Linked DNA regions of Homo sapiens: region 2 is linked to region 1. The links come from fine-mapping of genetic effects on gene expression. Tissue or cell type: whole blood. Region 1 holds a variant in brackets; the other region holds the start of a gene. All regions are shown on one strand. Distances are between the middles of the regions.

What was found.
Region 2: HTR6 starts here. The variant in region 1 is fine-mapped to the expression of HTR6 in whole blood (INTERVAL, PIP above 0.99).

Annotation. Positions count from the first base shown.
Region 1 is chr1:19,682,831-19,688,197 of GRCh38, reverse strand. It overlaps TMCO4 (transmembrane and coiled-coil domains 4), which reads left to right. Exons shown (of 16, transcript NM_181719.7): 16 at 4,754-5,367. The coding sequence ends at 5,158. Among named protein-coding and RNA genes, the nearest start is that of HTR6, 21 kb to the right of the region's middle. The variant C/T (reference allele first, on the strand shown) is at 2,857.
Region 2 is chr1:19,661,810-19,667,110 of GRCh38, reverse strand. It overlaps HTR6 (5-hydroxytryptamine receptor 6), which reads right to left and starts at 2,236. Exons shown (of 3, transcript NM_000871.3): 1 at 644-2,236. The coding sequence starts at 1,357. RefSeq lists enhancers at 471-1,441, 1,442-2,414 and a silencer at 2,193-2,422.

The DNA of each region.
Region 1 (5,367 bases):
TTATGAGTGCCATCACAGGGTGTCCACAGAGGCCCCTGCCAACACGGGAAGCCACGGAAGGCTTCTGCACGCCAGTCACATCCGGCGTGTATCCAGGCAGCTGGCAGATTCAATCAAGACAGCCTGGGAGATGGTCAGGGGCTGAATCTTCACGCAGTATCGGCTACACCAGAACTTTCTGGTGCTGAGAAGAGGCTCTTTCCCGACCTGCCTCACCCCTCTTCTCTCATCTCTCCAGCTAACTGTAAAACCAGAGCTCTGCCCAGCAACTGCTCCCCTGGGTCTTTGCAGAGGGGTGGCTCAGGGACTAGGGTTGCCTGAGACCCAGACCAACTTGTAGTCGAGGAGGGCCAGAGCTGTGTGTTCTAGGACAGCTCTCAGTGGAATTTCCATCTGGTATCAGCTGCAGCCAGTGGGTACCAACACCTCCCTTCCTTCCTGGCCTGTTTCTACCCAGCACTGGCACCAGCCATCTACAACATTAAAAAGGTATAGGGAGGCAGTTCTTGTTTGTCCTTAGAGAGGCAGTTATCACTTGTCCCTGTGGGTCTGAAGTTTCTGCTGGCTGGAATTCAGATGTGATGGCTGGAGCTTGAGCAGCCATCTTGGGCTCCCAAATGGATCAGCCCAGCTAACTCCCTACTCTCCATCCCCCACTCGTAGGAAACTAAGGTAAGGGAACTCATATTTACAGAGTACCTCCTGGGGTGCCAGGCACTGTGCTTCATGGTTTGTATTATTTCTTCCCAGCAACTCCTTTAGGTAGGTATCACTAACTCAAATTGCATGATGTCTCTTTAAAAGTGTTTGGGGCAGGGCATCGTGGCTCATGCCTATAGTCTCAGCAATTTAGGACGCTGAAGCAGGAGGATCTCTTGAGCCCAGGAGTTTGAGACCAGCCTGGAGAACATAAGAAGTCCCCATCTCTACATTTAAAATTTAAAAGGCCAGGTGCAGTGGCTCACGCCTGTAATCCCAAGCACTTTGGGAGGCCAAGGAAGGCGGATCACCTGAGGTTGGGAGTCCGAGACCAGCCCGGCCAACATGGTGAAATACTGTCTCTACTAAAAATACAAAAATTAGCCAGGTGTGGTGGTGCACATCTGTAATCCCAGCTACTTGGGAGGCTGAGGCACGAAAATAGCTTGCACCTGGAAGGCAGAGGTTGCAGTAATCCAAGATCATGCCATTGCACTCCAGCCTGGGCAACAGAGCAAGACTCCGTCTCAAAAAAAAAAAAAATTAAGAAAAACAAAAAGTGTTTTGGATCATATAGGAACATAATATCAAAAGCTAGCATTCTCTGAGTTCCTATGAAGTGCCAGGCCCTTGAACTCCTTATAGCAATCATTCAAGGTCATGACTCTCATTTTACAGATGGGGAAGCTGTGGTTCAGGAAATTGTGAGGACTGGCCCAGTTACTGGTAAGAGACAGAGCCAAGGCTGGTACCCCAGCTTTTCAGAGAGTCCAAACTTAGGTTCCTTCTCAGGCCCTGCAGCCACTAAATATGTGTCCTGCTGCAGAGGGGCACTGGCTGTGCCTTGACAACCACCCTGAGCCCAGGGCCCTGAAAACCACTTAGATGTGTGAATACACGTGTGTGTATTTTCCCTGGAATCTGTTTAAAAGCATTCGTGAGGAAAGGAACGAGAGGTGGGCAGATTCTAGTGGTGAGAAAATAACAAAACTGTACAGGGAATTGTCTTTTCGTGTTTTTGAAAAATCATTTGATTAATACAGTGTGATTTGCAATTCAAATGGAAATGCAGATGTTACCAGCAGTGTCTTTGTGCTGTTTTCTGAGATTCCCAACAACAGCCTCCCTGGTGTTTTTCCTGTCCTTTTTTTAAAAAGAAAGCCTTCCCCTTCAGCCTTAAAGGAAAGTCCGGTCTCATGCGCATCTTTGGCACTAAAGCAGGCCCCCTCGACTGGCTGGGTATAACGTGAGACTCCATCTCAGGGGCAGATCCAGGCTGAGCAGCTTCTGCAGGCAGCATCTCAGGCTCAGCACCAGACTGTGCTGTTCATGCGCTGTGTGTCATTAAGCAAACCGCCACCCCTCTCTGGGCTTTGCTGCCCTTCTCTGTAAAGTGAGGATGATTTTTAACCTTCCTTCCTTCCCCAGCTGATTTTCTCTGAAGAGAACAGGCTTTAGAAACAGGCCTGGATGGCCGGGCGCAGTGGCTCACGCCTGTAATCCCAGCACTTTGGGAGGCCGAGGTGGGTGGATCATGAGGTCAGGAGATCAAGACCATCCTGGCTAACACAGTGAAACCCTGTCTCTACTAAAAATACAAAAAAAATTAGCCGGGCATGGTAGCGGGCACCGTGGCAGATGCCTGTAGTCCCTGCTACTCGGGAGGCTGAGACAGGAGAATGGCATGAACCTAGGAGGCAGAGCTTAAAGTGAGCCAAGACTGCACCATTGCACTCCAGCCTGGGCAACAGAGCGAGACTCTGTCTCAAAAAAAAAAAAAAAAAAAAAGAAACAGGCCTGGATTCAAATCCCAGCCCTGCCAAGTTCTAGCTGTGTGACCTTGGGTAAGTCACTTTACCTCCGTGTGGCTCAATTTCATCTACAGTGAGCAGCCGACACCTAGCAAAGGAGTATATCCAAGAAGCTTATTTGCTGCAATGTATTAAGGACCTACTACGTGTCAGGCATTGTCCATTATTACATCTAGGCATCAGGCATTTCAATCACACCCCTACTTGTTGCTCACCAACATATCCCAACACAAAAATGGGATGAACGTATGACTCTGACGAAGGGGGTGGCCACTTCTGAGTTCTTGGCCTTTGTCTTAGTTAAGATGCAGACCCATATAACAGAGGCCCTGCTAATGTTTTTTGT[C/T]TGTTTGTTTTTTCTGGAGACAGGGTCTTGCTCTGTCGCCCAAACTGGAGTGCAGCGGCACAATCAGGGCTCACTGCAGCCTCAGCCTCCCAGGCTCAAGCCATCCTCCTACCCCAGCCTACATAGTCACTGGAATTACAGGCACACGCCACCATGCCCAGCTAATTTTTGTATTTTTTTGTAGAGACAGGGTTTCCCCATGTTGCCCAGGCTGGTCTCAAACTCCTGGGCTCAAGTGATTTTCCCACCTTGGCCTCCCAAAGTGCTGGGATTATAGAGGTGAGACACTGTGCCTGGCCTAATTGTCTTAAATACACTAGGGTTGATTCTGTCACATAAAAGAAATCAGAATAGGCCATTTAGGGCTGATGTGCCACTCCACAGTCTTCAAGGACCAAATTTCCCTCTTGCTGCTTGTTCTGCCTTCCTTAGTGGGCTGACTCATGGCCCAAGATGGCTGCTCAAGCTCTGGCCATCTCGTCTGAATTCCAGCCAGCAGGAAAGAGGACATGAGGGAAGAAGAGCACTCCTCCTCTTAAAGAGAATTCCAAGGAACACCACATCACACTACCGCTTCAACTCATGGGCCAAAACTAGTCACAGTGCTATTCCTAGCTGCAAGGAAGCCTGGGGAGTGTGCCCAGCTATAAATGTGAGTCCTTGTGACTAAAGAATAAACGGCAGAGTGAGTTGTAGCCAGCACCTTGCAGTCTATGCTGTAGCTTTCTTTCCAATTTGAGGACTTTTCCAGGGAAAATCCTCACAGCCAACCTCTGGTGAAACTACCCTTGTGTTCCCCTTTTTACAGCGGAGGAAGTTGAGAGCCAGAGGGGTAGAGGGGTAGAGGGGCTTGACCAAGGTGTCACAACTAGTGAACAGCAGAGCCCTTCTGGAGTAGCCTAGAGCTGCAGGCATCAGCTGGGCACAGTGCCTCAGGCCTGTAATCCCAGCACTTTGGGAGGCTGAGACAGCAGGATTTCTTGAGGCCAAGAGTTCAAGACCTGGGCAACATAGGAGACCCCATCTCTACAACATTTAAAAATTAGCCAGTCATGGTAGCATGCACGTGTAATCCCAGCTACTCAGGAGGCTGAGGTGGGAGAATCACTAGAGCCCAAGAGGTCAAGGCTGCAGTGAGCTATGGTTGTACCACTGCACTCCAGCCTGGACGAGAGAGAGAGAACCCATCTCTCTCTCTCTCTGTTTTCATTTTTCTTTTTTCTCATGCTATTTTAACAAAAAGCCCATCCCTTAAAAAAAAAAAAAAAAAAAAAAAAAGCTGCCGGGCACAGTGGCTCACGCCTGTAATCCCAACACTTTGGGAGGCTAAGGCCAGTGGATCACTTGAGGCCAGGAGTTCGAGACCAGCCTGGCCAATATGGTGAAACCCCTTCTCTACTAAAGATACAAAAAATTACTGGCATGGTGGCACACGCCTGTAATCCCAGCTACTCAGGAGGCTGAGGCAAGAAGATCACTTGAACCTGGGAGGTGGAGGTTGCAGTGAGCCAAGATTGCGCCACGGCACTCCAGCCTGGGCAAGAGCCTGTCTCAAAAAAAAAAAAAAAAAAAAAAAAAAAAAAGCTTCAGACAAAGAACGAGAGCTTCTACTCCACCTTTCTGTTTATCAGGAGATTCCTTCCTGCCCCAAAAGGATCCAGATTTTTTAGAGAAACATCCTTCATCTTTATTTAATAAATTCTAGAACAGCTTTGAACATAGAGCCTTCCCACCCACTCTGGATTTGAGAGCCACTGAGGGATGGAGTCATGGGTTTGGTGATTCGTTGGCTGTGGATGCTCAGGGCAAGGCTGAGGCCCAGAAGTTTGGCCGGAGGTCCCTGGGGAGGGCTGGGCTCTGCACACCCACGGTGGTGCTCACTCACTGTCTCCTGCAGGTCAGCGGCCACCTGGACTATGCCAAGCAGATGGATGCCATCCTGAAGGCCGTGGGCATCCGCACCAAGCCAGGCTGGGACGAGAAGGGGCTCTTGCTGGCCCCAGGCTGCCTGCCCTCCGAGGAGCCTCGCCAGGCAGCAGCTGCCGCCTCATCAGGCGAGACCCCCCACCAGGTTGGGCAAACCCAGGGTCCCATATCCGGAGACACCTCCAAATTGGCCATGTCCACAGACCCCAGCCAAGCCCAGGTGCCAGTAGGGCTGGACCAGTCTGAAGGGGCCTCCCTTCCTGCTGCTGCCAGCCCTGAAAGGCCCCCCATCTGCAGCCATGGCATGGACCCCAACCCACTGGGCTGCCCCGATTGTGCCTGCAAGACCCAGGGCCCCAGCACGGGGCTGGACTGACCACAGCAGGGGACCTGAGCCGTCTTCCCCAGTCTCCATATGCAGCTCTCTCTTATACCCTCGGGTTCCTCCCAGGAGCTCTGGAGGTACAGGATTTCCACAGGCCTCTTTCCTAAATGGAAGGAATTGGAACTGAAAGGGAAAGGAAATGGAAGGAAGGGGAATTTGGAGGAGAGAACACGCCCACCCTTGGGAAGCTGCCTGTCCCC
Region 2 (5,301 bases), 21 kb after region 1:
GGGAGAGGGGAGGTGACACTGGAGAGGATGGCAGTGTGGGATCCTGAGGCCAGATCCTGAGACAGGTTTTCTTTATCTGGAGCACGGTGGGAAGCCTGAAGAGTCTGAAGCAGGGGAGTGACATGATCACTTCTTTTTTAAGTGCTCCAGCTTCTATGCAGAAGATGGAGAGTACTGGGTCTGCGGCAGAAGCAGGGGAGCCAGGAGAAGTCTACACAGCCTCCCCGGTAGGAAGTGGCAGGGGAGATGGCACCTGTTTAGAGCAGCGCCAACAGGTCTCGCTAATGAATGGCATGAGGGTGAGGGAGAAAAGTATTCCTAAGTTCCTGGCATGTGATGCCGCAATGGTGCCATTTGCCATGATGGGGAAGACCAGGGAGGCAAAGATGGGGAGAGTTGGGCCACCATAAATTCCCTGTTGTACATGGTACCTGGGAGAAGCCTGCCCCCAAATCCTGACGGAGCTATCCTGTGGTGGGTGGGTCAGGCATTGGCTCTGGAGTTCAGAAGAAAGGTGGGCGCTCACAACAGCCACGCAGGGCCATGAGCAAATGTGTGCTAAGTGGGGATGCCCAGGGGGTCCCCAGGGGCTGCTCATTCCTCTCTATCCCACAGCCCGGGTCTCCCTGCGCACCCCAGGTACCTGCAGCGTCTCCGAGGCCTGACTGGCCATGCCGGTGGTGAGGGAGGCCACCTGCACGGCCTGCTTGCGGGCAGCTAGCAGGATCCTGCAGTAGGTGAAGCATATGGCACCCGAGGGCAGGAAGAAGGTGAGGCCCGACGCCACAAGGACAAAAGGCAGGCTGGCCAGCAGGCGGCACTGGCCAGGGACGGGTGGCCGTGCGTGGCCCAGCTCGTGCCAGCCCAGCAGCAGGGGCAGGAAGGAGGCGAGAGCGGCGAGGCTCCAGGCGCCCAGGACTAGGGCCAGGGCACGCAGGGGCGTCATGCGCAGCTTGTAGCGCAGCGGCGAGAGGATGAGCAGGTAGCGGTCCAGGCTGATGAGGCAGAGGTTGAGGATGGAGGCGCTGCAGCACATCACGTCGAAGGCGGTCCAGAGCAGGCAGAGGCCGCGCGCCAGCACCCAGCGCCCGTACAGCGCGTTCAGCATGGCCGGCGGCATCACCACCAGCCCCACCATCAGGTCAGACGTGAAGAGCGACACCAGGAAGAAGTTGGACGTGTTGCGCAGCGCGGGCTGAGTGCAGATGAGCGCGATCAGCAGCGAGTTGGCCGCCGCCGTCAGCGCGATGACCACGCACAGCGCGGCCGCCACCCAGCCGCTGCCCCCCGGGGCCGACGGCGGCCCTGCCCCCCAGGCCGGGGTGCTATTGGCGGTTGGGCCCGGCTCTGGGACCATGAGGACCGAGGGTGGACGGCAAGGGAGTGATAGGGTGGCGGGAAAGCAGATGAGGGCCCCGGCGAAGCGCAGGCTGGACGGGGACCGTCCGTGAGAACAGACCGCGACTCACCACGCCCCCCGGGGGAGGTGAGTGGGGGGACATGGGCGGGGGCGCTGGGTCGCGCTAGGTCAGGGGGCAGCGACTACAGGAGGACACAGTGTGGCTATTTGGGCGCCCTCGGGGATGGGGCAGGAACTCCTGGAGCAAACGGGTTGGAAGTTTGGGGAGGGGCACCCGATGAGCCGAGGCCCCTGAAGGAAGCGGCGGGAAGTCAAGCAGAGGTCGGATGGGCTCCCTGGGGTGGGAGCAGAGCCCCCTGGAGGGGGCGGGCGGCAAGATAGGGGAGGGGCGTCCGGCCGGGTCAGAGTGCGGGGAAGTGGGAACGCGGGGAGGTGGGTGAGGGGGGTGAATGGGCGCTCTCGGGCCGGAGCAGGCTCCCCGCGGCCGGTGGGCGTGTGGGGTACCAGGGCGGGGGCCTAGGGGCCGGAGCAAAGCCGCCCCTGGGAAAGGCAGGTCTCAGCTGGCGCGGAGGCACCGGGATCCGGCGCACACGGCCTGTGCGGCGCGGGGGTTCGCCGGGGCCGCCAGGCCCCGCGGGAAGAGGAGGGCAGCGGCCGCGCGGCGCCCCCTCCCCACCCGGCAGCAGGGTCGCCTCCGTCTCCCGCCCGCACTGGTACCTGGGGCGCTCTGGCTGCTCCGCCGCCTGCGACTGCGGCAAGCGCCGCGGGGCTGCGAGAGGAAGAGGCGGCCGCGGGCCGGGCGGGCGGCGGGACCGGGTCTCCCGAGCCCGGGAGGCGCCGCGAGGGGCCCGCACGCGCGGAGGAGAGGCCGGGTGCAGCCTGGAGCGCGCGGTCCCCGCGCCGCGGAGCGTGCGCCCCGCCTCGCGGTGGGCGGGGAGAGCCGAGCCCTGGCCCTGCAGGAGGGCGGGGTCCCGGCACCCCGGGCCTGTGGGCCGAAGATCAGAGCGCCCCAGCTGCGAGGGGTCACCTCCCGGGCTGTGGCAGCCCCCACACCCTCAGATGCCCCTCCCAACCCACACGTGGCGGCGGCGCAGGCGGAACTGGGAGCAGGGGGCTGTGACCTGCCCTTATCCAGGGGCTGCTCTCTAATGGGTGCCTGCCCACTCACAACGGGGTCACCGGGCTTTCAGGGGAGCCAGGAGTTGGGAAATATTGGACAAATCGCCTGACACCCCTCTGGGCCTCAGTTGCCATATCTGTAAAATGGGTTAGTAATTCTGGGCATTCTTCACCGTTAGTTTGAGCAAGAAGCTAACCTTCCCCAGGGCCTTTCCCGCAGAAACCATCCCGATCCCCAAAGGGGCCAGGTACTAAGGATGAAGTCCCTGAGCTGTTGGCGCTCCTAGTCTAACAGAGCGTGAACAGATTTGAGAATCCCCAGGCCAGGTGTGTTAAGAGTCGCTGCAGGCAGAGGCGTGGGGTGTGGTTTCCCCTGGGTGTGACCTCCCTCTGTACGTCTCCCCTCTGGCTGAGAAGAGTCTCTGCCTAACACTGCTGTGCAGGTTAATACTGTTATTCATTCATTCATTGAACAGATACTTCAATGCATCTTTTAAGGCGCATCCACTAGATGTCAGGCACTGTTCTGACCCATCAGGACACTACAGTGGCCAAAACAAAGATCCGCACCTCCATGGAGCTTACATTCTAGTGGAAGAAACAGACAATAAACAATAAGCATAATCAACAGAGAAAGTGGGCCCAGCGAGGTGGCTCACGCCTGTAATCCCAGCACTTTGGGAGGCGGAGGTGGGCAGATCACCTGAGGTCAGGAGTTCGAGACCAGCCTGACCAACATGGTAAAACCCCGTCTCTATCAAAAATACAAAAATTAGCTGGGCGTGGTGGCGGGAGCCTGTAATCCCAGCTATTCGGGAGGCTGAGGCAGGAGAATTGCTTGAACCTGGGAGGCAGAGGTTCCAGTGAGCCAAGATTGTGCCACTGCACACTCCAGCCTGGGTGACAGAGCAAGACTCTGTCAAAAAAAAAAAAAAAAAAAAAAAAAAAAAGGAAAGAAAGAAAGAGAGAAAGGAAAGAAAGAGAAAGAAAGAAGAGAAAGAGAAAAAGAAAATGTAGTATAAAGAGAACGGGGTGGGATCATTTTTTCTCCACAGAAACAGAAAAATAATACTTTCCAAATCGAAGGCTCCTGCGCTGTCCCCAGGGGCTTTGTTGTACGGTTCCTACTCCTCCAGTTATTTATTCCGACCCCTACAATAATGCTGAGAGGTAGACGTTAAACTGGGGTTCAGAGAGGCCAAGGGCCTTGCCCCAGATCACCAGCAGCAAGTGGTGAAGTGGACCTGAAACCCAGATCTGCTCGATGCCCATGGCAAAGAGAGCCCATTACAGATGGTCAAAAACCTCCCCTCAGGCACCTCAGAGCCTGCAGCACCCACCCGCCAACTCTAAGCTGCTATTTGGTGCTCAGAGCCCCAGCCTTGCCCACAGAAGCATCTTTTAAGCAGATAGAGGAGGCCTGTCCTTCCTCCTTGCCACCACACTGCACCACTGTGACGATTTCTGCCATGCCCCCAAGGAACAGAACGTAGTACAGCAAGCCTGGGCAGAGAGTCAGAAACACATGGCTTGGGATCCCCGCTCCATCCCAGCTCTGGGATTACAGGGCCAGTGGCTCCATCTCCTTGGGTCACAGCTTTCTCTTCTGTAATAGTTAGCAGAACAATATGGCACCCACCTCACAGAGTAGCTGAGGGGATTAAATGACACTGATGTAATCTGTGTCTTTGATACTATGTTAACACTAGCTGGCCGGGCACAGTGGCTCACGCCTGTAATCCCAACACTTTGGGAGGCCAAGGCGGGCAGATCACCTGAGGTCAGGAGTTCGAGACCAGCCTGGTCAATATGATGAAACCCCGTCTCTACTAAAAATACAAAATTAGCCAGGTGTAGTGATGCACGCCCATAATCCCAGCTACTCAGGAGGCTGAGGCAGGAGAATCACTTGAACCCACAAGGCAGAGGTTGCAGTGAGCTGAGATCACACCACTGCACTCTAGCCTGGGCAAAAACAGCGAAACTCCATCTAAAAAAAAAAAAAACAAAAAAACAAAAAAACAAAAAAAAAACCTAGCTCTTGGCTTTAGTGTTCCCATCAGCACAATCGTAATGCATTCAGCTCTGTGCTAACTCCTTGAGCCCAGGGATTTCTGACGTGAACAGCTGCAACCCTGAGAGGTGCTGTGTGGAAGGATTTTGGAGCCCAGCATCCTGGGTTCATCATCCAGAGTCTGCCACTTGCTCTGTGAAGTTGTGCAAAGCCTCTTAAATTCTCTGCTGCTATGAAACCAAGGCAGTGGAGCTGTGAATGAGATGAGTAAAAAATTTTGCCTGATAAATGTTGCTTTGTAAAAATCTGTAGGTAGTGCATAGAATATTAGTCTTTCTGCTTTCACTTTTCCCACAATACTTGATATCTTTTATTTTAAAAAAAAGACCTAAAGATTAGCTGAGCGTGGTGGTGCACGACTCTAGTTTCAGCTACTTGTGAGACTGAGGTGAGAGGATTGCTTGAGGCCAAGTGTTCAAGGCTGCAGTGAGCTATGATCACACGTGTGAATAGCCACTGAACTTCAGCCTCGGTGACAGTGTCTCAAACAAACAAACTAACTAAAGAAAACCTGGCAATAACTTTAACATTTGTTCATTCTGGGTGATGGATCCGCTGATGTTTGTTATAATGCGCTCTGTGCTAAAATTTAAAATTTTATTTTAAGATTGGGCCAGGGTTATGGTGCCACCTTGTGGCCATACTGTTATTATCTTGAACTTGAGACTTTTTTTTTCTTTTTTAGAGACAAGAGTCTCGTTCTGTGGCCCAGGCTGGAGGCAGTGATGCTATCATAGCTCAGTGTAAC